4 linked regions of the Homo sapiens genome follow. The protein of the gene in region 3 interacts with the protein of the main gene of each other region in a pairwise test. Each region holds a gene or a part of one and is shown on either strand. Other genes may lie near its edges.

Region 1 (7,444 bases), on a different chromosome or scaffold from region 3:
ACACAATAACCACTGCCATGCGGCAGCTCCAGAAGCCGGCCAGAGCATGCACTCTGCCTGCAAAGGGTGTGGGCTGACCATCATCTCATCCATAGGTGCTTCCTGGGCAGAAGAGCAGAATTTGATTAGGATGGTGGAAGTCTACAAAAAAGAAAGCATGGGAACCAGTCCCTGAAGAGGAGCTAGGAAGAAAGATGGCCCCCTGATCTGGGGAGGCAGCATTTTCTCTCCAGCTGCTCTTGTATGAATATACCTGTGCAGCACTGGGTTTGGGGGAGAAGGGACATTCAATAACACCTGAAAAGTACTGTCCCCTAGGAAGGGCAATCAGGACACAGGGAGATTCATCCTTAGATCCAGCTCTAGGTCTTGAAGAAAGAAAACAGTCCCCAAAATGATTCATTCATCCTTAAATAGTTCACTGAGGCAGAAATTGTTTCTCCTTTAGAGGAGAAAGATTAAGGTCAGAGAGACAGATACATTGGCTTAGGGTCACACAGTAAGTTGGTGCCAAAAAGATGCTGAGCCTCTTGTCTTTCAGTGTGCTATTTCTAGAGCCTCTGATTTTTTATGAGTCTACTGTAGGGCCAAGAAGGGGCTCTATTCTAATTTGGGGTGGTGCTAGCTTGGCCACCCACGTCTTCTGACCTTGAATGAAGCATTTTTACCAAGGTAAATGGGTCTGTGGAGCCAAACTCTCTCCTGGCTGAGATCTCTCAAAGTCGTTTGTCCGATAAAAGGGGGGTAGGGTGGAGGTAGGGGGTAGGGAAGCTCGAGAAAAAAAAAATGACCAGGAACACAAGTGTAACAGATGCACCCAGCTGTTGTCACTGGCGAGCACAGACAAGGGTGAGGTACCAATGGCTCCAAGGGAGACAGTCTCGGCAGATAAAGGAAGTCAGAGTGACGACCTAAAGTCCCTGAAATGCTAGTGCTGGCTCCGAGGATGTCACGTCACTGGCCTGGCACACTCAGTGAGCACAGAGACTTCACTGATACTTGCCCCTAAGTGGGGAGTCTCTTAGTACATCCCCCAGCACTGGTAGAGTGGTAAGGGATTTTCTTGTGTTTTTCCCTAACCTCCAGCTGAAGCAGAACCTAGACTATGGGAACTTGGGTTGACTGGTTAACTACTAATACTGCCCATACCCCAGCTATAGCAGCAGCCATCTGTGCTGAGGACTTCCCCCAGCGGCACTGTGGTTCAGTAGAAAGGTCACCAGACCAAGCCTGCTAACCAGCTGTTGGACCTTGGACAAAACATTTAACATCTCTGTGCTTTAGTTTTCTACATTTTATAGACATAAACACAGATGCTGGACAAGATGTCTTCTAAAATTTTTTTCCAGTTTTACAACTGAGCATTTGATAGGAGCACAAGTTTCATTTTCCCCAGGAGTAGGATGGCTGAGTGCGCTGTCATCACCACCCTATGGGATTTCTCTCATTTGTCCCAACAGGCCAGCACTTATGGGCTTTGTGTCTGCACCTCACCCCACGGGCCCTGTGAAACCTTTCCAGCAAATGGCTTAGATGTCTGTTCTGCTCCCTCCCCTAGGAAACATATTTTAGACTCAATTCTTCCCTCCTGCAAGTCTGAACTTTAGGTCTCCAGCTGAAGTGGGCAAGGATGGTGGGCTCCAGAAGCAGCAGCTCTGGTGTGGTAGGAGCCAGAAGAGGAGGTGAATGGGGGAAGGATGTCCCTATGTTCTCACACCCCAGGACCTCCAGGACTCTCTAGCCAGGAAACAGGGTCGAGCTGGCATTGCATGATCTGGTTCAGCTCAATTCTCAGCTTCAGCAGTCTTTCTGCCACCCCTGATCACACTGGGTTGGATTTGTGGGGGAGGGAGTCAAGGCCTGCAGACATGAACATACATGCTTAGGTCGGTCAAGTCAACAATGAACGGCAGAGTGGGATGGGAATCCAGGTGTCCGGAGTCCCAGCCCAATACTTTTTCCACCCCAAGCAGAAGATTCTGAAAGGACCCCTGGCCCTCCGGCCCAACACGGGGTCCTGTTTAAAGACACTGGTGATTGCCAGGCTCCAGGGGTGAAGTCTGGTCCTGAGAAGGGTGGCAGGGAGGGGACAAAGTTTGGGGCAGTGCTGGGATGGGAAAGACATCTGCACCTGGAGGCCATTCTTCCTAGACTTTGGGGGGGTGGAGGTGGGGGTAGATGAGGCCTGCAAAAGGAAGAGATGATGCCAGTAACCCATCCTCTCTGAGGTGGTGGAGAGAGAGGTTTGGGTTTTTCCTTCCTCTTCTTTCTTTGCCAGCCGGGCCTCCAGGCCCCCAGGCCTGAAAGTCAGCCGCCACCCCCGACCCCCATCATGAATGTGTCAGTGGGTCCGCCTTGGGCCAACAGGCTCCCTCAAACCCACATTTCTAGCCTAACACAGACCCTCCTCCGACGCCCCGAGAATACCCATCAGTCTTTACTGATTCCCTGGCATACCCTCCTCCCTACAACGCCCCCTGCAGACGCGGCGTCCCCGGGGTGTCCCTCCCCAGGATAAATTCCCCCAAAGTGCCGTCAGCCCAGAAAACTCGGCAGTGCGGCTCCCGCGCGTGGGGCACCCCGGGCCACCCTTCCACCCCGCGGGGGGACCCCGCCGCCCAGGTGCCCTCGACCCCGAGACTCACCCAGAAGAGCATGTTGAAGAAGAAGAGCAGGTATTTCACCAGCGGGCTGACGAAGGAGAACTCCTCCCCGGAGGCGGCCGGCGCCCGGGGTCTCCGCGCCATGGCCCCGCCGCCGCCACCGCCCCCGGGGGCCTATTTCCCAGCGGCTGCCGGCCGGCCTGTGTGCCCCGCGCCCGGGGGCATGAGCCGAGCCGCGCCGCGCAGGAGCCCGGCCGGCGGGGGAGCCTGCGCTGCGGCGGGAGGCGCCCGAGCCGGGGGGCCGGGAGCGGCGCGGGCCGGGGAACCGCGCCTGGAGCTGCTGGAGCCGCGGTGGGCAGCGCGAGCGGACGAGACTCACCCGCGGCCGCAGGACCAGCCCGGCCAGCCAGGCGCCCAGGAAACCCGGCCCGCCCCCGGCCGCTCATTGGCGCGACGGCTGGAGCCCGACTTCCCATTGGCTCGTGGCTGATGTCACTAAGTATCCAGCCATCCCTCTCCACCGAGAGTCGGGGGAGACACCTGTTCTGTGAGGGATAACTTGTTAAAGGGTCAGCGGTTCTGCCTCTCCCCTACCCCTAAGGGAAAGCATCCAGGCTGCAGCTGCTCAAAGGAACAAGAGTGAGGAGAAGGAATGCACAGTGCATCCCACACCCACGTCCTCCGCCCAGCTGCTGTGCACATATGCAAACACACATACATTAAAATCAACAAGTACGCACACCGTGTGTTGAGCAATGCGCCGAAAGCTCTGGGAACGCGGGAGAACAGAAACAATCCCTGGGGGATGACAATAAAATCAGGGAGACAAAACTAACCTACACATAACAATTAGACCAAGGGTAGATGCAATCTTGTTTAGTAACTATACATTTTAAATGCTTATTTCAGAAGCTCTACAACCCAACAGTGGAAATTTGGAAACATCACCGCCAATCCCGCCATCCTAATTCATTGCTGTCTCAATTCCCGCCCCCGCAGCCCCTCTTCCCTTGGTCTACTTGCAGACACCGTTTTTAACATGCTGATCCGGCACACACAGGTTGAGTGCAGCGTAGCTGGCGAATATATTATGCTGGCTACCCTAACTAATACAAGTTGAACCTCGGGGAGGGAATCTGATTCCACCATAATTAGCTGCGTGAAAGCTGCAAGCTACTTAATCTCTCGGAGCCTCAGTTTGTTTAATGTTAAATGGGAGAGTCCTGACCTAGATGGCGATTTGAGGATTAAATGAGATAATGCATGTAGCTCACTTAGCACATGGCTGGCACATGGAAGGCTCATCAAAGGCATTACAGTATTTCGTTTTAGCAGAATTAAGAATCCAGTGTGGAAATATGATAACCGCACAAATAATTATAATACGTTTGGTAGAAGGTTAGTGAAGATAGCGTGGCAAGTGAAATTAGGGGAGGATGGGATTTAGAATAGTAGAGACGGAGGGGAAACATAATCCAGGTGGATTAAAAAAAAAGGGGGTGAACCAAAGCCTGGAGGTGCAAAAGCACGCCATGTGTTTCGTGCAAAATAAGCAGACTGCTGTGGCTGGAGCACAGGGTATGCTTGGAATAGCAGTGGGACATAATGCTGACCGATGCCGTTACATGTGGAATTGTGTTAAAACTGCGGAAGTAATTGAATATCAGATTGGGGAGTTAGTGCTTAATTGACTTGGAAATAAGAGTTTTGGAGAAAAGGATGATGGAAAACCCATGGTTTTCAGTTGGAGTGGGAAAGAGGCTGGAGAGAGAAAGATTTGTTAGAAGCATGCTGCTCATCATCCAGATAATCAGAAATCAGGAACTGATTTAGGAGTAATAGACAGAATAATAGATGGTTAGGAGAGGATAGAAGGGAAGGCATTGGAAAGATAGAATCTCTAGGGCTAGGCTGTGGTGACAAGCAGGCATAACAGGAGCACCAAGAGTGGAGGTTAAAGAAGGCAGTCACAGCCAGGTTACTGGGAGATTACTGGCCCTTAACAGGTTAAGTGACACTGGAGATCAGTTTTAGTATAAAGCAGGTAGGGTGGGCAGAAGTCATTTTCCAAGAGGTTAATGAGTGAATAGGTAGGTGCCATTTTCAGATGTTAGTGCGGGGAGGATAGAGAAATAGACCAAGATGCTGAATGTTTCTATTAGATGATCTTCCAGAAATCAGTTTTATTTTTTTGAAACGGAGTCTCACTCTGTCGCCCAGGCTGGAGTGCAGTGGCCTGATCTCAGCTCACTGCAACCTCCGCCTCCCTGGTTCAAGCGATTCTCCTGCCTCAGTCTCCCAAGTAGCTGGGATTACAGGCGCCCGCCACCATGCCTGGCTAGTTTTTGTATTTTTAGTAGAGATGGGGTCTCACCATGCTGGCCAGGATGGTCTGAACTCCTGACCTTAGGTGATCCACCTGCATGGGCCTCCCAAAGTGCTGGGATTACAGGCATGAGCCACTGTGCCCAGCCAAGAGATCATTTTTAATTGAGACGGGAAGAAGAAGGAATATCACAGTGTCAAGGAAGGAATGGGTGGTGAAATGGAAGCTGTGAACGAAACTGTGGACATCTCTGTCTGGCTTTGAAGGTTATGGGAGCCTTAAGGGACTTCAGAGTGAAGGGAAAGTTCTCTGTTAGCATATAAGAGACCTAACATGTTCGTAGGAAACAAAACAAAACAAAACAAAACAAAACAGTCAAGAGGGATTAAGGTGGATAATGGCTGGAATGAGGTTTTGGAATTAACAGGTAGAGATGGGATTAGCCTTCAAAGTGATGACCACAATGTCCCTCATGTGGAAGTCACGGACGGCATCACAAAGTAGGAAGCCATGCAGCTATAGAACAAAGAATTAGGAAACTCTCTCTGTACTGAGTTGGAACGATCTCCAAGTTAACTCATTACGTTTAAAAAGCAAAATGAGGCCGGGGTGGCTCATGCCTGTAATCCCAGCACTTTGGGAGGCCGAGGCAGCCAGATCACGAGGTCAGGAGATCAAGACCATCCTGGCTAACACGGTGAAACCCTGTCTCTACTAAAAATACAAAAAAATTAGCCGGGTGTGGTGGCGGGCACCTGTAGTCCCAGCTACTCGGGAGGCTGAGGAAGGAGAATGGCATGAACCTGGGAGGCGAAGGTTGCAGTGAGCCGAGATCGCACCACTGCACTCCAGCCTGGGCGGCAGAGCAAGACTCCGTCTCAAAAAAAAAAAAAAAAAAAAAGCAACAAGTGGGACAGTGGATACAATATATCACATTCTGGTTAAAGAGAAAGAGAGAAAACAAAAATAAGGAATAACATTTATATTTGCTTCCCTCTGCCTAAATAAACTCTGGAAGGAAACGTAAGACATTAAGAAAGGAGGTTACATACTGGGATGGTGATGAGAACTGAAAAGAGAGGAGAGAGACTTTTCACTGTGTGCCATTTTATTCTTTGTTTTTTTTTTGTTTTTTTTTCTTTGCAGCATAAAGTGTATTAATGATTCAAAATGAAAAAATTACACAAATTGAAAAATCAAAAAGAATTTAAAAATTGGAAAAATGTATCTTTACTATAGAATGCTACGCAGCCATTTAAAATAACATAGAAAACATATGTACTGACTTGCAAAAAGGTCCATGACATATGAGGTGCAAAAATCAGGTTGTAGAATAAAGTATACAGAGTATCTGACAATCAGTGAATAGTTTCAACTTATTTCAAGTCCTTGGAAAAGGTATTCAGTTCTTTGGAATACATAATGTGGCCATTTAAAATGGAATTCAATGGAAAAGGTATTTCAGTTATGTGGAATATATAATGTGGCCATTTAAAATGGAATTCAAAGCAGAAGTGGTGGCTCATGCCTGTAATCCCAGCACTTTGGGAGGCCAAGGTGGGCAGCTGACTTGAGGCCAGGAGTTTGAGACCAGCCTGGCCAACATGGCAAAACTCTATCCCTACTAAAAATACAAAACTTCGCTGGGCGTGGTGGTGTGCACCTGTAATCTCAACTACTTGGGAGGCCGAAGCACAAGAACTGCTTGAACCCAGGAGGTGGAGGTTGCAGTGAGCCAAGATTGCACCACTGCACTCCAGCCAGGGTGACAGAAATTCTGTCTCCAAAAACACACACAAAAAAAACAAAAGAAAACAAACAAACAAAAAATGGAACCCAAAAAACTTATGTAATAGTATGTAAGATTTTAACAATATAAACATATTCACAGTAAGAAATATGGGCCAATTTCAACAGAGATGAAAAAATATAAAAGTAAAATCAGCTGTGTTGTTGTGACGGGACATGTAGCAATTTTTAGCTTAAAAATATATTTAATATTATTACATATGATTATGAAAATAATTAAAATATTTGAATGGTATCTCTGTAAAGAAAGAGGGTCATGTTGCTGGAGCTAACATTGGCAAGAAGGTATGTGAAGAGAGAAGCAGTGACACGGTGTAGACGAGGAGCTTTAGGAAAGGGGAGTTCTGGGTAGAGCAAGGCAGGAGACTCCAGGCAAGACGGGTCAGCAGCAGTGATGGCTCAGCTCGTGTGGCTGATGACTGTGGGGATCCCAGTTGGCCAGGCTGGTGATTTCCTTCAAAAAGCATGTAGACCAGGCGTGGTGGCTCAAACCTGTAATCCCAGCACTTTGGGAGGTTGAGGTGGGTGGATCACGAGGTCAGGAGTCGAGATCAACCTGACCAACATGGTGAAACCCTGTCTCTATTAAACATACAAAAATTAGCTGGGCGTGGTGGTGCACGCCTGTAATCCCAGCTACTCAGGAGGCTGAGGCAGGAGAATCGCTTGAACCTGGGAGGCGGAGGTTGCAGTGAGCCGAGATCAG
Region 2 (7,024 bases), on a different chromosome or scaffold from region 3:
GAGTGAACTGGGAGCTACACATGGACACAAAGAGGGGAACAAGAGACACCAGGGCTTGAGGGTGGAGAGTGGGAGGCTGGTGAGGATTGAAAAACTACCCATCTAGTACTATGCTCACTACCTAGGTGACAAAATCATTTGTACACCAAACCTCAGCAATGTGCAATTTGCCCGTGTACCAAACCTGCACATGTATCCCCTGAACCTAAAACAAGAATTGGAAGGAAATGAGAGACAGAAGACTACAAAGGATCTTAAAGTTTAAGCATTATGAAAAAGAGCCAGAATTCTATCACTCCACCCCACCCCCCCAATAATTATTAGGGCAGTTTCAGAACTCCTGAAAGATACAAAGAACAAGATGGATTAGGAGGGACCTAGAGCAAATCCTAACAGGAGGGAGCTCAATTCACAGGGTTTACAATAAGGCAAGCAATAAATCCTGAAATTTGGGAAATCTCAAAGAGTAAAAGACAGATAAGGATTCCAGGAGAGGTAAGGAATTCGGATTTAGGATACTGCAGGCATTTACAATACTGCAGTCCTGAAATGTTGAAGTCTCCAAGAGCAACAAACAGACAACAAACAACAAACAGATAAGGATTCCAAGTCACACCTGGTTAGAATCTGCATCCTGCCCTGGGCACGGGAACAAAGGAATAGGAGATTTCAAGCCTGAGTAACCGAGTCATCTGGGATTTTATCGCAGAAGAAAGAAACTGAAGGAGGGTGGTAAGAGTAGAATGAGAGAATTCAGATTTGAGACAAAGTCAGTTTGTGTGGACTGAAGGGCATGCACCTAGGAATGTCTTGTAGACCACTGAAACCACAGGACTAGCCAGGCATGGACTGTGGAGATATGGCTCTGAGAGTTGCCCACTCAGGGGTTCGGTGTCAATGGCAGACATCCTCTCCACATCAGAGACCCAGGGGCAGAGAGTGTTGCCCGTAAATCCCAAGTCCCAGGAACTCTCAAAACCTCAGCAAAGTCTTTACAGAGAAGCCCCAAGCTGGCCCTATGGAGACCTTAATACAAAGGAGCTTCTGCCAAAGACAACAAATCAAAAAGATGTCTGACTTTGGTAGGACAGGTCAGGTCCTTCCACACAGACAGCAGTGCTCATGAGAACCACAGTGTGGCATGAGGCTGTCCCTGGGGAGAGGCAGGCGGGAGAAAGGAAACTTCACAGAATACCCTTTGCTGCCTACAAATTCTGCACCACAGACTGCCTACTCAAAATAACACCATAAAGTTTAACTTTCTTCAAAAGGTCAGTCAACTTAGTGGGCTCAATGCCATCCCTACTGTTGGGGCAAACAACATGAGAACAAATATCAGTGACTGGCATAGGAAGCTGCCCGGTGGGGACCATACGTGGGGGTGGGGAGGGGGTGCCTCACTATTACCCCAGCCAAGTAACCACCACATGACAAGACTTGGAAGGCAGGAACCCTGCCCAGTGCCAGGAACAAATTAGCATTCTTTCAAGGAGACTTTGGCAAAATTAATAGTGAAGAGTCAGTGTCCGTCTCTTTTCTGAACCAGAGGCAGTATGACACACAAACAGCTGTACTTTTTCACCCCCAACAGCCTCTAGTGCCAGTCCAGAAGGGCTGGGAGACCTTAACAACATAGAATGTAGCTTAACAAACTGTGGAGAGGAATCTCCTCCACCTACGTGGATCCTAGAAAAGATGGAAAAGTGTGAAAACCAGAAACAGTAACACTCAAATCTTTTCAAACAGTTTAAAGGATGATTATCTGCCCTGTGAAATTAGTTACAATGGCCGGGCACGGTGGCTCACGCTGTACCAGCCCTTTGAGAGGCCGAGGCGAGAAGATCGCTTGAACCCAGGAGTTCAATGGTCAACATTTTAAGACCCTGTCTCTATTATAAAATAAGTATGTATATATTTATATATATAAATTCAAAAAAGAAATTAGTTACAAGATTCATTTTAAAAAGAGTTTCTCAAATATATTCAAGATTATATAATTTCTGGCAGTTGTAAGGTTGAGAATAAAGTGAGGGAGGAGAAATGCTTTACATTAGTAGGACAGTGCAGGTTTTATACAATCTTCTTGTTTATCAAACATATTCTGAATGATTTTATCAAGTATTATGTTCCCATATCCATCAGCTGTTAGACTCTCATGCTCATTTTCTACCTTACCAATTTAAATATGCAGTCGGCTGGGTACGGTGGCTCATGCCTGTAATCCCAGCATTGTAGAAGGCCAAGGCAGGCAGATCACCTGAAGTCAGGAATTTGAGACCAGCCTGGCCAACATGGTGAAACCCTGTCTCTACTAAAAATATAAAAATTAGCTGGGTGTGATGGTGGGCGCCTGTAATCCCAGCTACTCGGGAGGCTGAGGCAGGAGAATCACTTGAACTCGGGAGGCAGAGGTTGCAGTGAGCTGAGATCACGCCATTGGACTCCAGCCTGGGCAACAAGAGAGAAACTCCATCTCAAAAAATAAATAGATAAATAAAAATAAAACTCTTAAATATTATTGATTTAAAAAAGATTGTATTATTTCTTTAAATCAGTAGGGAAAAAATTGATTATGTGGAGTCAAAACAGGCAATAAAATTCTGAATAATATCCTTATGAACACTGATAACACCAGCCCCTCTCAGAAATACAGACACCGTCCATAGCAGACCCTACAGTCAGTGAATGTTCTAAAGAGAAGCGTTGAATACTGAATGACTGCTTATTACTAGAACAAATGGTTCTCATGCTAACAGTCATTAACTGGAAAGCATTTCTTCCAAGCACCCTCACCCACTGCCTGGGTAAGGCGCCTTGTGGTCTTCAAGCACTGCGCCGGGAGTGCCTTTCAAGGATACCAGAGTGGCCACTCCCAGGAAAGTGCTCACAAATGTCTAAATCACAGTCATCCGATAACCAGGAAAACTGAAACTAATCAACTTTCTCTATAAAACACATACATTTTTTTCTGCAAAGAGTCTCCACATTTACTCTGAGACCTTTTTAACATTTAACATTTTGAAAGATTTATATAGTATTTTTTTGATTTTGTAGCCAAATAAGAAAAATAGGTAACATTTGGGTATCATATCTATCAATGTTAATCAATAAAGAAGCTTTTAAAGTCTGTAAATTAATTCTATGAGAAAAAAATAAAAAACAACAACCGGGAATTAGAAGACCTTCATAGGCCAGGCGCGGTGGCTCACGCCTGTAATCCCATCACTTTGGTAGGCCAAGGCGGGAGTATCACCTGAGGTCAGGAGTTCGAGACCAGCCTGACCAACATGGAGAAACCCCATCTCTACTAAAAATACAAAATTAGCTGGGCGTGGTGGCATGCCCGTAATCCCAGTTACTCAGGAGGCTGAGGCAGGAGAATTGCTTGAACCCAGGAGGCAGAGGTTGCGGTCAGCTGAGATTATACCATTACACTCCAGCCTGGGCCAACAACAGCGAAACTTCGTCTCAAAAAATAAATAAATAGAAGACCTTCATAATACGAACCATTCTGTATCTAACCAACTAAGTCATCTTGAGCTAATAACTTAAACTCTCTGAGCTGTGGCATCCTCTTCTATAAAATAACTACCTCAAGCCGGGTGCCATGGCTCAGGCCTGTAGTCCTGAGCTACTCAGGAGACTGAGGTAGGAGGATGGCTTGAGCTCAGGAGTTTAAAGCTGTAGTGAGCTATGACTGTGCCACTACACTCCAGCCTGGGCAACAAGGTGAGACCCTGTTCCTAAAAATAAAAAACACCTTTAAAGTCCCTTCTAGTCCTAACAACCAAGGAGAGCAATTTAACATTTTTTAAAGATGATAAAAATTCTTTTTTTTTGAGATGAAGTCTCGCTCTGTCCTCCTGGCTGGAGTGCAGTGGTGGGATCTCGGCTCACTGCAAGCTCCGCCTCCCGGGTTCACGCCATCACGCCATTCTCCTCAGCCTCCTGAGTAGCTGGGACTACGGGCGCCACCACACCCAGCTAATTTTTTTTTTTTTTTGTAGTAGAGAAGGGGTTTTGCCGTCTTAGCCAGGATGGTCTCAATGTCCTGACCTCGTGATCCGCCCGCCTCAGCCTCCCAAAGTGCTGGGATTACAGGCGTGAGCCACCGCGCCCGGCCGATAAAAATTCTTCTAATGAAATACCATGTTAACCTGGGCAAACACAAAACATTTTTTAAAAATAGATTTTGGAAAAACTAATTTTAAATAGTCAAAAATCATGCAGTAATTGAGTTTTTAAAATAAAATCATACTGTTTGAGCAACAAAAATAAGAAACATAAAATAATTGGTTATATGAGAAAATAATCTTTCACCTCCTCTCCCTGTTAAGCCTGGGAATCATAGTTAAGGTTTACTGATTTTTTTAATTCCTAAATTATTTCTCAACATAAAAAAATTTTCTTGAAAAAAATTAAGCATTTCTCTTATACCTGAAGTAGTTATAGTTCTTTAATATTTTATTTGAGTAGTTCAATCTCAAAGTCTATTGAAAACCATTTTTAATTATAAAAGAAGGTAATTGCATACAACAGTGTTCAGTGGTCCTTCTACAGTTAAAGCCTGTGATTCGGAGTACTGAAAAATTCCACAAGAAAATAAACCAAAAAGAGGCCGGGCGCGGTGGCTCACGCCTGTAATCCCAGCACTTCAGGAGGCCAAGGCGGGTGGATCACCTGAGGTCAGGAGTTTGAGACCAGCCTGACCAACATGGTGAAACTTTGTCTCTACTAAAAATAAAAATATTAGTTGGGCGTGGAGGTATGTGACTGTAATCTCAGCTACTCGGGAGGCTGAGATGGGAGAATCACTTGAACCCAGGAGGCAGAGGCTGCAGTGAGCCAAGAACACATCAATGCACTCTAGCCTGGGTGGCACAGCGAGACTCCATCTCAAAAAAAAAAAAATTAAAATTGAAAATAAACCGAAGATAGGTCATAGAAGGCTAAGTCCTTTCTATAAAACTTTCCTTAAAAGGTAATGAATATGAATAGGTTCTACAAATATATATAACTTGAAGATTTAATCACCTTTCAAGTGTGTAAGATGAATATTAAAGTTTTTTCTATAAAAATCTATTTTAATCAGTAGCAACATAGCTAACATATTATGTGACAAGCTCTGCTGTCAGCCCATACATACGTTTAATCCACATGAATATCCTGTAAAGCACATACAATTTTATGACCCCCATTTTAATGATGGACAAACTGAGGCTGCCACAACTTCCATGATCTACTCAAAGTTACACAGCCTTTATGTGGCGGAGCCCAGGCTCAAGGTAGATGTAACTGACCCAAGCCCCTGCTCTTACACGCTATCTTCAGTTAAGATTTAAACTCCCCTTTCTAAATGATGTCACTATTTCCTCTCCATATGGGTTTCATCTATCTAGAAAGGAAGCCTTGAAATAAGTAAAGCTCTAATTTAAATAGCACTTCAGCAATTAAGTAAAGCAGAAAACCCCAGAACCTATACGCTAACTTCCGAAACAAAATCTCCTGAAATGCCAACTCAATCATAAATTTTAAGATGCCAATCTTTCAGACCATATCTCATCCTTTGCTTTCCTAAGCTCCATCAGAAAAATATGGTTGGGTAGGAAGAGGATCATTCCCAAAGCCTAAACTCCAAGTTTCTTAGTTTGGCAACTATACTGTGCTTTGGGACTTTAAAATTATAAGCACAGTTCCCAGAGGAGAACATTTCCTTTATTAGCAATTGGCTTTGAAAATTCCATTCTCAGATGCTAAATATAACAAAATACCTTCTGACTTTTATAAATAAACATGCTCCAGATTATTTTGATACTAATGATTTTCTATTTACAAGACAGTTTTGCCACAGCAGTTAAGCAACTGTAACATTTTGAGGAATCTTTCAAGTTTACTCCAGAGCTTTTTTTTTTTTTTTTTTTAAGACAGAGTCTTGCTCTGTCGCCCAGGCTGGCGTGCAGTGGCGCCATCTCGGCTCACTGCAAGCTCCGCCTCCCAGGTTCACGCCATTCTCCTGCCTCTCAGCCTTCCGAGTAGCTGGGACTACAGGCGCCCACCACCACGCCCGGCTAATTTTTTGTATTTTTAGTAGAGATGGGGTTTCACCATGTTAGCCAGGATGGTCTCGATCTCCTAACCTCGTGATCCACCCGCCTCGTCCTCCCAAAGTGCTGGGATTACAGGCGTGAGCTACCACGCCCAGCCTCCAGAGCTTTTCTTTTCTTTTAAGACGTTGTTTGGCTCTTGTTGCCCAGGCTGGATGGAGTGCAACGGCGCAATCTCGGCTCACCGGAACCTCTGCCTCCCAAGTTCAAGCGATTCTCCTGCCTCAGCCTCCTGAGTAGCTGGGATTACAGGCATGCACCACCACGCCCGGCTAATTTTGTATTTTTAGTAGAGACGGGGTTTCTACTAAAACCCCGTTGGTCAGGCTGGTCTCGAACTCCTGACCTCAGGTGATCTGCCCACCTCAGCCTCCCAAAGTGCTGGGATTACAGGCGTGAGCCACCGCGCCCAGCCTATTCCAGAGCTTTTAAAGCACTGACTTGAAAATTGTTCACTGGATTCTTCTACTATGAAATTAAAAAGTTCTTGTTTCATAATGCATTTCCTTAAAATTTATTATTTCTAATTTCCTTGGGTTCTAACACAAGAATATTGGCAAAGCCAAAGTCATGGAAGTAGGTGTTTCCCAAACTATGAAACAGAATAAATCAGGATTTTTTAAAAGTTTACTATGGGCCGGGCACGGTGGCTCACACCTGTAATCCCAGCACTTTGGGAGGCCAAAGTGGGTAGATCACCTGAGGTCAGGAGTTCGAGACCAACCTGGCCAACATGGTGAAACCTCGTCTCTACTAAAAACACAAAAAAATTAGCCAGTCGTGATGGCAGGCACCTGTAATCCCAGGTACTGGGGAAGCTAAGGCAGGAGAATTGCTTGAACACGGGAGGTGGAGGTTGCAGTGAGCCGAGATTGTGCCATTGCACTCCAGCCTGGGCAACAAGAGCGAAACTCTGTCTC
Region 3 (6,680 bases):
GTGCAACCTCCGCCTACTGGGTTCAAGTGATTCTCCTGCCTCAGCCTCCCAAGTAGCTGGGACTACAGGTGCTCACCACCACACCAAGCTAATTTTTATATTTTTAGTAGAGACAGGGTTTCACCATGTTGGCCAGGATGGTCTCGATCTCTTGACCTCATGATCCACCCGCCTCGGCCTCCAAAAGTGCTGGGATTACAGGCGTGAGCCACCGCGCCCTGCTAGGCCAGCCAGCTTTTCTGAAAGACCTCATGCTCTTACACATTACAAGCGGTTGTGAGAATCAAATGAGATAGGGTGCATCTCAGAATCTGAAAAATACTATGCACACGGAAAGTATTATTTGGTCTCTAAGGCCCATCAACTTGGTCCTAACTCACTTTTATCAGTTTGTAGAACTTAATCTTTTTAAGTTCTCCGTATTTTTTTATGCTTTCATTTTTTAATGTGCTACCCTCTCTACCTGGGATGTGCTTTTTCTACAGGGCAAGCTCTGCATTTCCCCTCCTCTCCTTTTTCTCATCGTGGTTTGTACTTGCCTCTCAGCACCCATCACACTGGATGTAACTACAGGCATGTCTCTCCTGTTTGACTGTAAACTCCTTGCTGGACACATATCTCAGGAGTCCTTACAGCCATTTCAGTGCTGTTGCAAAGTGGATATTTAATAAATATTTGTTGAAGGAAGTCTGTTTGCTTGTTTTTGAGACAGAGTCTTGCTCTGTCACCTAGGCTGGAGTACAGTGGCATGATCTGGGCTCACTGCAAGCTCCCCTACCGGGTTCATGCCATTCTCTTGCCTCAGCCTCCCGAGTAGCTGGAACTACAGGCGCCCGCCACCACACCCGGCTAATTTTTTGTATTTTCAGTAGAGACGGGGTTTCACCATGTTAGCCAGGATGGTCTTGATCTCCTGACCCCGTGATCTGCCTGCCTCGGCCTCCCAAAGTGCTAGGATTATAGGCGCGGTGAAGGAAGTTTTTTTAAAAAAAGAACAGATCCAGAAGCAAGATTAGGGTATCAAGATTTTACATTACTAATTCTGAATTCGTTATCCTTTGCTTTCAGCCATATTAAAACTGAAAGCCTTCCATACCTGACGTTTTTCTATCTCATTATACAGCTTTCCTGTCAGATCTTCTTTTAGGGTGACTTTGAAGAATCAGAACATCAGGGCTCCAACTCTCAGTAGAGCCAGTAACCAGCTTCCTGATTTAAAAAAAAATCACCTTTGGCCTAATTTTGTCACTTATAAACAGTGGTATTGCAGTACCCTGGTATGATTAGTTATGATATGTTTAACAATAATTTTAAAATACCAAAGCTTGTGAATTATTTTACTTTCAAAAAATATGTAAGTTAGAATTGTAATTCTAAAGGCACTGTCGTTTGCTTACACATTCTAACATATTTCTAATAAGAAAGTACCTGCTTTCTTAAGAGAAAAAGGGATAAGTTACCAAAAGCAGCACGTTCTCCTGGGCTCATACCCCGGATTCATCCATGAGGCCACTTCCATTGTAAAGCTTTTAGCATCTCTTGATTTCTCTTGACACTGAGGCACAAAGGCCTGCTACTTATAGGCATTACTTCATTTTTCCTTATGAAGGGTACTATACCAACACAGACTTTATAGTATGTTTAAAAATCCCAACTGCAAGATACACAGGATGCTGTAGGCCTGATTTCCTGTTGTAGAACCTCCAGCCCTGTGTTGAATGAGGAGGTGCAAATATATAGACCCTTAAGATCAGACCACAGCAGGCATTCAGGTGGAGGGGATGAACTCCATTCATTCCAGCTGTGCAGTGGGACATCTGCGCCCTCCGCATCTCGGCTCATTCCTCATCTGAGCCACTCAAGAGGGCGGTCTGGTAAGTGTCATCTGAATTCAGCTTCTGAATTCCAATGATTTCTCCCCTTCCGTGTCTCTTCATCCGAGTCAAAAGGCTTTAATAGAGAAAGAGTAAGAGCCAATTAGCCAGAGATTCCCTTAATCCATTACCAAGGATGTGAAGGCATCTACTGATTCTTAAACTATTTTCTTTATATTTCTATCAAATACTGTGATTACATGTCTATAAACTAGACTTCTTAGGAAATATTCATCAGTAGATAAAGGGGCGATGGTGGAAACTACTGAATGTCATAATTGAGGCCAAGGTCTTGCCTATCTTGGTTTACTGTTTCAGTGGCTGGGCAGGAGAACTAAAAGAAACTGACTTGAGCTCCCTTCTCTTTGGTCCGTGTGGAACTCTTTCTGGATGAAATAATGGCAAAAATCACCGTTACTTTTGCACCAACCTAATATTCTGCTTGGGATCTAGAGAAATGACCTAGAAGAAAAGGTAGAGGCAGCCGAACAGCAAATAGAACTGGTAATACCATTTGCTAAAATTCACCCTTGCACTGAGAGGCTCTGCCATTTATTAGTGGGGTGACCTTGGTCAAGTTACTCAGCTTTTTGAAGCCTTGTTTTCTCCACCTGTAAAAAATAACAGTGCATACTTCATAAAGCAGTGAAGATTAAATGGGATAATAGAGTGTAGCTGCTTTCCACTGGGCCTGGGGCGCAGCAAGTGCATAGGAGTCCATAGCTGTTATCTGTATACCTCTAAGGAGCCTTCAGTGAGGGGTGGAGTGCAGTTTGTCTTAACATTCTGCTCTGGTTTATTTTTTGACTGTCACATCATTTCTGGGAAGCAGGGAGGGCAGGTCTGGAAATAAGATGATGGGTCCAGAATGAACCCTTTACGTGGGGACTGCCATCCAGTACTGATTCCCATTTCAGTATTCCCCACCACACCATAGGCTTAAAATCTGTGAGACCTGCATTTGAAACCTGGGTCCCTCAGGTTACTATGACTTTGAAAAGCCCTCAGGTCATTAAACTTTGAAAAGCCTCATTCCCCTTGTTTGCAAATAAGGGTAGTGATACCTTCCCTGCATGAGAGTACCTTGCACAGAATTTGGCCTGTAGTCGGCACTCATCAGATGGTGCAAGTTAATCACATCAGTCCTGCTTAGAGTTAGGAGGAAAAGCTTCACTGAAGTCTCAGACATACCAGTAAACAAGAGAATAGTTGACGGCCACAATGCTGAGGGCAGCCAGGTAGTGCCAGCAGAAGCACATGGTGATGAACATGAGGTTGGCATCATCCTTCTGGTCCCATTCGGGTGTTCCAAAAGGTGGGAACAGCACAAACCCAATCTAGGGGATTACAGAGAGAAGTTGGTCTTGTGGTTGGTCGTCCTGAGAAGCAATCTAGCCGTTCTCCTGTGGCCACCGAAGTGGCCCATGTGTGACCACCGCCTCATAGTTCCCACACTTCGTTAGCATAGAAAGGCCTTTTCACATAGAAAAATGGCTCTGGCCAGGTATGGTGGCTTACGTCTGTAATACCAGCACTTCGGGAGGCTGAGGCAGGCGGTTTACAAGGTTAGGAGTTCAAGACCAGCCTGACCAACATAGTGAAACCCTGTTTCTACTAAAAATACAAAAAATGAGCTGGGCATGGTGGTGGGCACCTATAATCCTAGCTAACTGGGAGGCTGAGGCAGGAGAATTGCTTGAACCTGGGAGGCGGAGGTTGCAGTGAGCCGAGATCATGACACTGCACACCAGCCCGGGCCACAGTGCGAGACTGTCTTAAAAAAAAAAAAAAAGCCGGGCGCGGTGGCTCATGCCTGTAATCCTAGCACTTTGGGAGGCTGAGGTGGGTGGATAATGAGGTCAGGAGATTGAAACCATCCTGGCTAACACGGTGAAACCCCATCTCTACTAAAAATACAAAAAATTAGCCAGGCGTGGTGGCGGGCGCCTGTAGTCCCAGCTACTTGGGAGGTTGAGGCAGGAGAATGGCGTGAACCTGGGAGGTGGAGCTTGCAGTGAGCCAAGATTGCGCCACTGCACTCCAGCCTGGGCGACAAAGCGAGACTCTGTCTCAGAAAAAAAAAAAAAAAAAAAAGGCTTCAGCTTAATTTTGGTTGTATAGGCTTACTTAAAAACACAAGTCCAGGTGCAGTGGCTCACGCCTATAATCCCAGCTCTTTGGGAGGCTGAGGCAGGCGGATCACTCGAGTTCAGGAGTTCGAGACCAGCCTGGCCAACATGGTGAAACCCTGTCTCTAAAAATACAAAAAAATTAGCCAGGTGTGGTGGCGGGCACCTGTAACCTGAGCTACTCAGGAGGCTGAGGCATGAGAATCGCTTGAACCTGGGAGATGGAGGTTGCAGTCAGCCAAGATTGCGCCACTGCATTCTAGCCTGGGTGACAGGGTGAGTCTCTCTCAAAACAAACAACAAAACAGAACTTCAGGGCCCACGTTTCCAGTGGACAGTTTAGCAAGCAGAGCCTGTGAAAGGCATCAGCCCATCCTCTGGGGAGGGCAGCTGAACGTCACCGTGCATGCTTTAAATTTTGGATTGCTAATGCATCCTCTGGATGTTAATGGATAAAACTAGGAGTCAAAGGGCGGGCATGGGGGGAAAAGGGTCATCTAAACCCCTTTGCATGGCATGTTAATGCTGCATTTTCAGACCCCATATTCTCGTCAGGGATTTCTCTGGGATGCGCTCGGTGGGGGCTTCTCCATCCAGACCAGCGAGGGGCCTGGGTGTGGAAAATCACCTGCCAGAACCAGGTTCCCTGAAGAATGATGAGACTGGTTCGGAAAAGTTCCAGCACAATGTGGTCCCGGAAGATCACCTCTAGGGAGATACTAACACACCCTCCGAACAGAGCATACAGCAGGAGTGAGTGGATGTGCTGGTCCAGCGGAGGCCGGTTGTGGACGTGGTAGTAGAAGAGGAAACCTGCCACAAACCAGATGGCAGCTGTCAGGGCTACGCTTGGCTTTCACCATCACCGAAGTTTCCTCCTACACCTGTCTCAGCTAGGTTCTTCAGCATTTAGGCAGTTAGTACATAACATTACAGGCAGCAAACAGATGCGAGTAAGTGTATTTCATGAGTATGTTAGGAGTATAAAGCAGCAAGGGATTGTATCTTAAAATCTCTATGGAACCCATGGTGGGGTCAGTATAGGATGGGCCGGCTGAAGCATGTTGCTGATTTGTAACAGACTGTGTGTGTATACTTGAAATTCAGTTTTGCCCTCAACCTTTTTCGACTCTTGCTGAGGTACAGAAGTGAGGTTGTTAGATGACAAAATGTATTTTCATACCCCAGTCAGTGTGAGTCATACTGGCAGCGCTCCCCTGGCAGTGGAGTGGGTCTCCTGAGGCTTGTGATGGAGGCAAGACGGTACCTCCCTGGGCAAAAGGTAGAGTGTGGTTTCGCTTAACCAAAGGGGTGTATCCCCTGCATGGTGGCATTCAACCAGCTGGGGCATTGTGTGTACCCGCATGTGTATGTGCGCACATACGTCCACACCGAGGAATATGCACGTGTGTGAGCAGGGGCTGCTGGCGGCAGTGGGAAGGCGAGGAGGACTCCTGCAGTGTTAGCCGGGGCTTTGGTAGCTGCCTTCAAGCCTCAAAGCTTTCATGAGCTACTTTAGGGAATATGTCACCTGGCCCATCCAGAGTAGAGCACTAGGTCCTATTCAGGTTTTGGCAGTCCAGAGATGTGGATTTTCTGGGGGAGGTTATTATATTTGCAACATTTCTGATATTTTGTACTCTGATCCTTCATAAATATGACTTGTCAGGCTCTCCTTCCTCTCCATCCGTTCCACAAAATTACCTTCCATGAATACTGCCACAGCCATAACCAGTCTGTCCACCCCCAAGGGAACGTGGCTGACCAGATAGGTGAGCATGTCAACAATTCCTGAGACTGCAAAGAATAGGTACATGGTGCTGTGCTGCCAATTCATTAACTTTATCCAGTGGTTCTCATGGTAGAGGTGCAGGTGGGGCCCATCCGGAACAAACTGCTCTGCCAGGATCCCTGCAGGGAAATGAGGATGGATGTTTTAGAGGGAAGAGTAGCTCTAAGACAAATAGGAGCAAGGAATAACCCAAAGGCATGAGCGAAGCGGAGATGGGGTGAGGTGAGGGTGGCCCGCGGGTCAGCAGAGCTACTTTGCTGCCTCAGGTGCAGCTGCTTCAGTATAAAGTAGGGTGTGTGCTGAGTCACCTGTGTAGACATCTTGCCATTGTTGTTCCTTTTAGGGGTTTGGGGTTGAGGGTAGAAGAATCAATGAACACAACCACACACACATAGATCCCCAGGAGGTTTGTCCAGGAGCAGAGATGAGCAAGACATCATCACTTAAGTCGGAGTGTGGCTGATAGAATAATCTCTGGGCTTCCCTGCCAAGTGAGCAGTGAAAGAAATCCCAGACAGAAACAATTAGGCTGAAAGCAGAATCTGAGCAGAGACACACTGGTAATGAAGATACCTGTACGTGCCAAGGGAGGGAAGCGGCTCCCAGGTGCGTGTCTGCAGGGCTGATTTTGAGTGCGTGTCCTTCCTGGGCACAGAGCCAGCTCTGCAAGCCCTGCGCCCCTCCCAGCTGTGTGTTTTAAAACACCGGGTAAACAAGGCAGAGGCCCCAGGATGTGGGCCAGAAAATGACGAAACTGCGACACAGGATAGCTCTTAGTTCTTATCCCTTCTACTTTTATCAGCTAATTTGGAAGGCAAAAGATTTGTCTTTATGCCTGGTACCCAAAGTGTTCTTGGGGAAGCCTAGAAGAAATCCTCCATGATG
Region 4 (7,590 bases), on a different chromosome or scaffold from region 3:
GGGCAAGACTCAGATCCCCTTCCTCACCCACCCATGAAGCCTTTGCTGACCTATTCCCCCCCCCCACTCCGTGTCCCCCTAACTCTTTTTTTTTTTTTTTAAGACAGGGTCTTGCTCTGTCACCTAGGCCGGAGTGCAGTGGCATGATCTCGGCTCATTGCAACCTCCATCTCCTGGGCTCAAGGGATCCTCCCACCTAAGCCTTTGGAGTAGCTGGAACCACAGGTGTCTACCACCAAGCCCGGCTAATTTTTAAATTTTTTTGTAGAGATGGGGTTTCGCCATGTTGCCCAGGCTGATCTCGAACTCCTGAGCTCAGTCTGCCTGCCTCAACCTCCCAGAGTGCTGGAATTACAGGCGTGAGCCACCATACCTGGCCATTTCTCTCTTTTATCTCTTCTCACCAGACAACTAAAAGTCTGAATTGTGTGCATTACCAGTCACAGAGGACACTGTCTTAGACTTCCACTGGTGGTGTCACTCACCTGTTTCCACATCAGTAAAAGCAGAGAATGCCTGTCCTAATGACAAATGTGACTGTGTATAGGAAGACAAAGGTGTATAGACCAACCAAGGGTTTGTTCCTCTCTCTCCCTAACTAGCACATGCTGAAAACAGTCAATAAATAACTGATAGTTTGTCCGGCCCAGCCTGATGATGAACTAAAAGGTGGGCATCCATTCTCAGAGTGCTGAGCAGTAGTGCCCGGCCTCCGCACACCTTCAGGGAACAATGGGGTTTTGATGCTGGGTCTGTATCACCAGAGGAGTGGAATGAGAAAGCCAGCAAAATCACTTTCAAGGGAAAGATGGGTTTCTAACAAGTACTCAGTGCTAATAACCAACGTGACTGAGTGCTTACGAGATACTACACACTCTTCTAGGTGTTTTATATGGGTTGTCTCATTTAATCTTCATAAATCATAAGATAGGTACTATTTTCCCTATTTTGTGAATGATGAAACCGGAGCTTAGAGGTTAGCAATACTATCTTTAGCAGGTTTTTAAAAAATGATTTCCCTGTTATCTTTGAAGATTCCTTTTCCACATTTAATTACAAGGGTTTCTGCTACATTCTTTGCCATAGCTATAAATTATTAGACAGATGAATGTAAAGCCCTTCCTTTAGGCTTATACAATAATCTTCCTTCCTTCCTTCCTTCCTTCCTTTCCTTTCCTCCCTCCCTTCCTATTTTTTGAGACCGGTCTCACTTTGTTGCCCAGGCTGGAGTGCAATGGCACGATCTCGGCTCACCTGTGCTTCCCAGGTTCAAGCGATTCCCATGCCTCAGCCTCCTGAGTAGTTGGGATTACAGGCGTGCACCACCACGCCTGGCTAATTTTTTTGTATTTTTAGTAGAGATGGAGTTTCACCATGTTGGCCAGGCTGGTCTCAAACTCCTGACCTCAGATGATCCGCCCACCTCGACCTCCCAAACTGCTGGCATTACAAGCATGAGCCACCACGCCCGGCCTCTTTCTTTCTTTTGAATTAGCAATGGGGTCTCACTATGTTCCCCAGGCAGGTCTCAAACACCTAGCCTCAAGAGATCCTCCTGTCTCAGTCTCCCAAAGTCCTGGGATTACCGACATAAAATTATTTGATAAACCGAGGTTACAAAGATTTGTGAAGTCACCATGTCCATGTGACTTCAGATTAAAACCGTACTAAGGGGCACACTCTAGTTCCTGCTTCCTCCCAGGCCCTTCCTGTGTGAGGCAGGCAGAGAGAGGTGGGAGTCTTCCCACCTGGGCTGAGGCTTCCAGGACTGGTCTGGGGAAGGGGATGTTGAACAATTCTTTCTCACTGGGATTAGGAAAGGCCTTCACCTACCTCTTGGAGAAGGAGTAGTCAGGAGGCTGGTCATTGTCACTAGTGGTTGAGTTTCTTGGAGAAGAGGCAGATCTGTAGGAAGAGGGGCAAAGACAGGAATGTAGCGGGTGGGCCCCTATGGCTTTGAGTCCTGGAAGTCCCAGGAAAGCCTCTGGTGCCAGGTTCTCCCAAGTCCCTTCCCCTTTTTCTCTTGTCCTCTTCTGGTTTCCCTGAATATCTCCTCAGGCTCCAGGTACCAACAGCTCTCCACAGGAGCAGGTCTGAGGCCGCATGCAGTTTGACGGGGTGTTACCTTCATACGCTCTCTCCAGGTCCTTTCAATGGGCCACCAAATTTACTTAGATCTCTCAAGGCCTGAGAAAGTCAGGCAAAGGTTCGCAAATCAGCAGCGAACCCAGTTTCGCCAAAGCGCGGTAACAGGTACCCTAGGGTTCCACAGCTAGGAGTTCTGGTGACGCCATCCACCAGGTGTCAGGAGAGGGCCGGGAAGGTCAGGACCCGCGCCCAGGCTCCAGAGCGGAGTGGGCGCAGCGCAGTAGCCGGGCCGGGACCGGGAGGCGACGGCCGTGGGCCGCCTTCTGGCTCGCCTCGGACGCTGGGACGCCGGACTGGCCGCCCCCTCCGGGCCTGCTTTCGCCGTCCAGGGCGCGGTCCGCGCACAGCCTGCCAAGCCTCACTGGGCCCCAGCCCGCGCCCCGCGCCCCGGAGATCCTCGACGCCCCTGCGAACGCGGGGTGGACGCGACGGGCTGGGTTGGTCCTCGCCCCGCGGCCCCGCCCCCGTCCCCGCCCCCGCCCCGAGCCCCCCGCGTTACCAGCACCCCGCGGAGCGCGCTGCGCTGGGGGCGGCCGGTGCGTCGGGGAGCGGCGTTCCCAGCCGCCGCGACCCTCTGCCCCAGCGGAGCGCTGAGCTTCGGCCGCTCCGGGTTTCGGTTCCTGCCACGGCCGAGGTGGCTGCGGCGAATGTGGGCGACCCGGCTCTCCGGCGCCCCCGCCCTTCCCTCGTGCTCACCTTTCCAGTCGGACGGGCTGCTGGTGAAGGGCCGGCGCCGCTCCGCGCGTCCTTTTGAACTCAACGGGGGCGGGCACCGCGGAGTCGCGGAGGCCAGCAGAGGCCGAACGAGGACCCCGAGCGGAGGAAGCCGCGGGTGGCGCGCGGGGTTGGCGCAGAGGCCGGAGGGGGTGGGGGGCAGGCCGACGGGGTGGGACAGGAAAAGCGGAGAGAAACCGCCCTCTGCAGGTCCCCTTGGCTCCCCCGGGAGGAAAGGCAGCCTGCCCTTCTCCGATTGTCACTTTACTCTCCATCCGGAGCCGCTTCCTTTCTCGCCGCGAGGCTCGGGGTTGGGGGGGGACCAGATTGGAGCCGCGGGCTAACTGGGATCCGTCCCATTTCCCTGGGCTTGACGTTCTCTGAATTTTTAGCTAATGTGGAAAGTTACATTTATTTGCATTTGTTTATCGCTTGCTCACATAGGTCTGTGTCCTGAAGCTTGGCAGATGAGCGAACTTAGCCAGCACACCCCCGGCCGTGAAGCAGGGAGGTGAAGCGGGGAGAGCAACGAGCCCCACCCGGGTCTTGCCAGCTGGACGTTCTTGTGGGGCAGCGTTGAGCAGCGGTTAGGAGTGCCGTGGACTTTGGATTCAAACAGCCCCAGCTCTTCTGCTTGCTAGCTGGGTGACTTTGGGCAAATTAACATCTCGAAAATCTGTTTCCTCATTCCTAAAATGCGGGTCTGAAAGTGATCATGCCTGTAAAGCCATCTCATATCCATGGTTCTAGAAGCATGGTGAGCACCTCAATTTGAATAATCAGTGCCATGCTTTAGCTACCTCTTGACTCACTCGTTTGTGGCAGGAAATGTTCCCAAATTAATCAGAAGAATTCAGTGACTAAGAGGATGTAATAGTATATAGCGCAGGCACTGGAATCAGCTCTGCTGTGTGATCTTGGACAAGCTGCTTCTGTTCCGTTTCTCTTATCTGGGGCAATACCTGTCTGAATAGAGTGACTGTTGGGACGAAATAGGTTAGTAAATATGTACTGTAAGGCATTAGAACCTTGCCTGGCACATAGTAAGTGCTCAATAAACGCTAGGTCTTGTTACCTTGGCTTCCCGTTTAGGATTGGAACCCTTGTGATTATTCTTTCCCTCCCAGTGATAGACTTCTGTGCTTACTTCGCACTCCTAGGCGTTCTGTAGGTTTGTAAACCAGTATTTATACAGAAATACTTTCTGTAGAAAGACAGGCATCATCAGATTGTGCATGTTAATCCGGGAACAGACCGAAAGGGAAGGTCTCAGAGGAGAGAGGCATAAAGGGAGAAAACAAAACAAAGTCACAAGCAAAGCAAGAGTAGTTGCTTTTATTCCTAAAGTGTTCATTATAAAAGAAACCAGAGGGCAGGGCACTGTGGCTCCCAGCACTTTGGGAGGCGGGTGGATCACTTGAGGTCAGTAGTTTGAGACCAGTCTGGCCAACAAGGTGAAACCCTGTCTCTACTAAAAATACAAAATCCGCTGGGCGTGGTGGCACACACCTGTAATCCCTGCTACTCTGGAGGCTGAGGCACGAGAATTGCTTGAACCTGGGAGGCAGAGGTTGCAGTGAGGCGAGATCACACCATTGCACTCCAGCCTGGGCAACAACAGCAAAACTCCGTCTCAAAAGAAAAAAACAAACACAAATACAGGAGGAAAACAAACAATAAAAAAGTGATGAAATTCATTTTATATAAATATATTGTGAGAAATATATGTAAATATGTGCATGGGAAAATGCCAATCCAACCAAGAAAGGCAAAGAAAGTGATATGCCAGCTATGCATATGTAACTTAATAAAAGAAAGGTGAGCCTGGCTTGTCCTTAGATAAGAGAATATCCAAGAGAAAAGGAAATTAAAATCCTAGAGGGCTAAATCCAAAGGAGGACAATTGCTGGCATTGACATACTTCTAGCTGTCCACCTTGATCATGAATTCCAGGAGAAGTTCAGATCGTTCTTGGACCTGGGTCTGTCTCTTTCACATTTTCTATTATGTGTTGAAGATTGTTTAGAACTATAGACTCAGCCAGGCGCGGTGGCTCACACTTGTAATCCCAGCACTTTGGGAGGCCGAGGCGGGTGGATCACAAGGTCAGGAGTTCAAGACCAGCCTGGCCAACACAGTGAAACCCTGTCTCTACTAAAAATATAAAAATTAGCTGGACGTGGTGGCAGGCGCCTGTAATCCGAGCTAATGGGGAGGCTGAGGCAGGAGAATCGCTTGAACCCGGGAGGCGGAGGTTGCAGTGAGCCGAGATTGTGCCACTGCACTCCAGCCTGGGCGACAAAAAAAAAAGAAAAAAAGAACTACAGACTCAGAGGCTATCTGGCTCAACTGACTGACTCTACTGATTTGCTGTCACTTTCACAATTTCGACAGTTGTTAGTAATGTTCTTTCAATAAGCATCTTTTTTTTCTCTTTAAAATGTAACTGGTGGGGCGCAGTGGCTCACGCCTGTAATCTCAGCACTTTGGGAGGCCAAGGCAGGCAGATCACCTGAGGTCAGGAGTTCGAGATCAGCCTGGCCAACATGGCGAAACCACGTCTCTACTAAAAATACAAAAATTAGCTGAGTGTGGTGGCGGGAGCCTGTAATCCCAGCTACTTCGGAGTCTGAGGCAGGAGAACCTTTTTGCACCCTGGAGGTGGAGGTTGCAGTGAGCCGAGATTGCACCAACGCACTCCAGCCTGGGCAACAGAGTGAGACTCTGACTCAAAAAAAAAAAAAAACAAGTAACCTTACACCTATAATCCCAGCACTTTGGGAGGCCACAGTGGGCAGATCACTTAAGCCTAGGAGTTTGAGACCAGCCTGGGCAACATGTTGAAACACTGTCTCTACAAAATACAAAAAAAGTTAGACAGGAGTCGTGGCATGCACCTGTGGTCCCAGCTAGTCAGGAGGCTGAGGTGGGAGGATCACTTGAGCCCTGGGGGTGAAGGCTGCACTCCAGCCTGGGAGATATAGCAAGATCCTTTCCCCTCAACCAAAAAAAAGTAACCTTAGGGAGGGAGGTGGGGATGATTAATGGGTACAAAAAAAAAAAAAAAAAGAATAAGACCTTAAGACCTACTATTTGGTAGCACAACAGGGTGACTATAAATAATAACTTAATTGTACATTTAAAAATAACTAAAATAGTGTAATTGGATTGTTTTTAACACAAAAGATAAATGCTTAAGGGGATGGATACTCCATTCTCCATGATATGATTTTATTATGCATTGCATGCTTATATCAAAACATCTCATGAGGCCGGGCATGGTGGCTCACACCTGTAATCCCAGCACTTTGGCAGGCGGATCACAAAGTCAGGAGATCAAGACCATCCTGGCTAACATGGTGAAACCCCGTCTCTACTAAAAATACAAAAAATTAGGCAGGCGTGGTGGCAGGCACCTGTAGTCCCAGCTACTGGGGAGGCTGAGGCAGGAGAATGGCATGAACCCGGGAGGCAGAGCTTGCAGTGAGCTGAGACTGTGCCACTGCACTCCAGCCTGGGCAACAGAGCAAGACTCTGTCTCAAAAAAAAAAAAACAAAAAAACTCATGTACCCCATAAATATATATACCTCCTATGAACCCACAAAAATTAAACATTAAAAAAATAAAAATAGGCCAGGCACAGTGGCTCACGCCTGTAATCCCAGCACTTTGGGAGGCCGAGGCGGGCAGATCACAAGGTTGAGAGATCGAGACCATCCTGGCCAACATGGTGAAACCCCAACTCTAATAAAAATACAAAAATTAGTCGAGCATGGTGGCGCATGCCTGTTATCCCAGCTGCTCAAGACGCTGAGGCAGGAGAATCGCTTAAACCTGGGAGGCGGAGGTTTCAGTGAGCAGAGATCACACCACTGCACTCCAGTCTGGCAACAGGGTGAGACTCCATCTCAAAAAAAAATAATAATAAAAATGAATAAAATGTAACCTTAGAAGGTTTGCTGATACTTGATTTTTTTTTTTTTTTTTGGAGACAAGAGTCTTGCTCTATCACCCAGGCTGGAGTGCAATGGCGTGATATCGGCTCACTGCAACCTCCGCCTCCCGGGTTCAAGCAATTCTTCTGCCTCAGCCTCCCAAATAGCTGGGATTACAGGCGTCTGCCATCAGGCCCGGATAATTTTTTGTATTTTTAGTAGAGACAGAGTTTCGCCATGTTGGCCAGGCTGGTCTCGAACTCCTGACCTCAGGTGATCCACCCGGCTCAGCCTCCCAAAGCGCTGGGATTACAGGCATGAGCCACCACGCCTGGCCTGATACATTATTTATTAATTTTTTTATGTAGTCACATACCTCATTTTATTTTTTGAGGTGGAGTCTCACTCTGTCGTCCAGGTTGGAGTGCAGTGGCTCCATCTCAGCTCACTGCAACCTCTGCCTCCCAGGTTCAAGTGATTCTCATGCCTTAGCCTCTGGAGTAGCTGGGATTACAGGTCCACACCACCAGGCCTGGCTAACTTTTGTATTTTTAGTAGAGACAGGGTTTCACCATGTTGGCCAGGCTGGTCTCAAACTCCTGACCTTGAGTGATCCACCTGCCTCGGCCTCCCAAAGTGCTGGGATTATAGGCATGAGCCACTGCTCCCAGCCAACATACCTCATTTTAAAAGTGTAGTCATACAGAAAAATAGATCCAATATGCACATGCTCAGCACCCAGTTTGGTGTAAAATAAATACTATTGTAAGCAGTGTGCGTATTGTGTTCTCT

Evidence for each region.
Region 1: the proteins of TMEM45B (region 3) and TSPAN33 interact in binary tests that used the Homo sapiens proteins (3 or more experiments, as listed by UniProt).
Region 2: the proteins of TMEM45B (region 3) and CDS2 interact in binary tests that used the Homo sapiens proteins (3 or more experiments, as listed by UniProt).
Region 4: the proteins of TMEM45B (region 3) and SMAGP interact in binary tests that used the Homo sapiens proteins (3 or more experiments, as listed by UniProt).

The regions. Positions count from the first base shown.
Region 1 is NC_000007.14:129,140,284-129,147,727, reverse strand, and holds the start of TSPAN33 (tetraspanin-33), read right to left. Parts: upstream 3,022-7,444; 5' UTR 2,748-3,021; coding exon 2,646-2,747; intron 1-2,645. UniProt on the Homo sapiens protein: Part of TspanC8 subgroup, composed of 6 members that interact with the transmembrane metalloprotease ADAM10.
Region 2 is NC_000020.11:5,129,990-5,137,013, reverse strand, and holds part of CDS2 (phosphatidate cytidylyltransferase 2), read right to left. Parts: intron 1-7,024. UniProt on the Homo sapiens protein: Catalyzes the conversion of phosphatidic acid (PA) to CDP-diacylglycerol (CDP-DAG), an essential intermediate in the synthesis of phosphatidylglycerol, cardiolipin and phosphatidylinositol.
Region 3 is NC_000011.10:129,853,844-129,860,523, reverse strand, and holds the end of TMEM45B (transmembrane protein 45B), read right to left. Parts: intron 5,915-6,680; coding exon 5,708-5,914; intron 4,817-5,707; coding exon 4,632-4,816; intron 3,212-4,631; coding exon 3,066-3,211; intron 1,951-3,065; coding exon 1,839-1,950; 3' UTR 521-1,838; downstream 1-520.
Region 4 is NC_000012.12:51,267,412-51,275,001, forward strand, and holds the start of SMAGP (small cell adhesion glycoprotein), read right to left. Parts: upstream 3,005-7,590; 5' UTR 2,845-3,004; intron 2,800-2,844; exon of another isoform or gene 2,648-2,799; intron 1,906-2,647; 5' UTR 1,868-1,905; coding exon 1,834-1,867; intron 1-1,833. UniProt on the Homo sapiens protein: May play a role in epithelial cell-cell contacts. May play a role in tumor invasiveness and metastasis formation.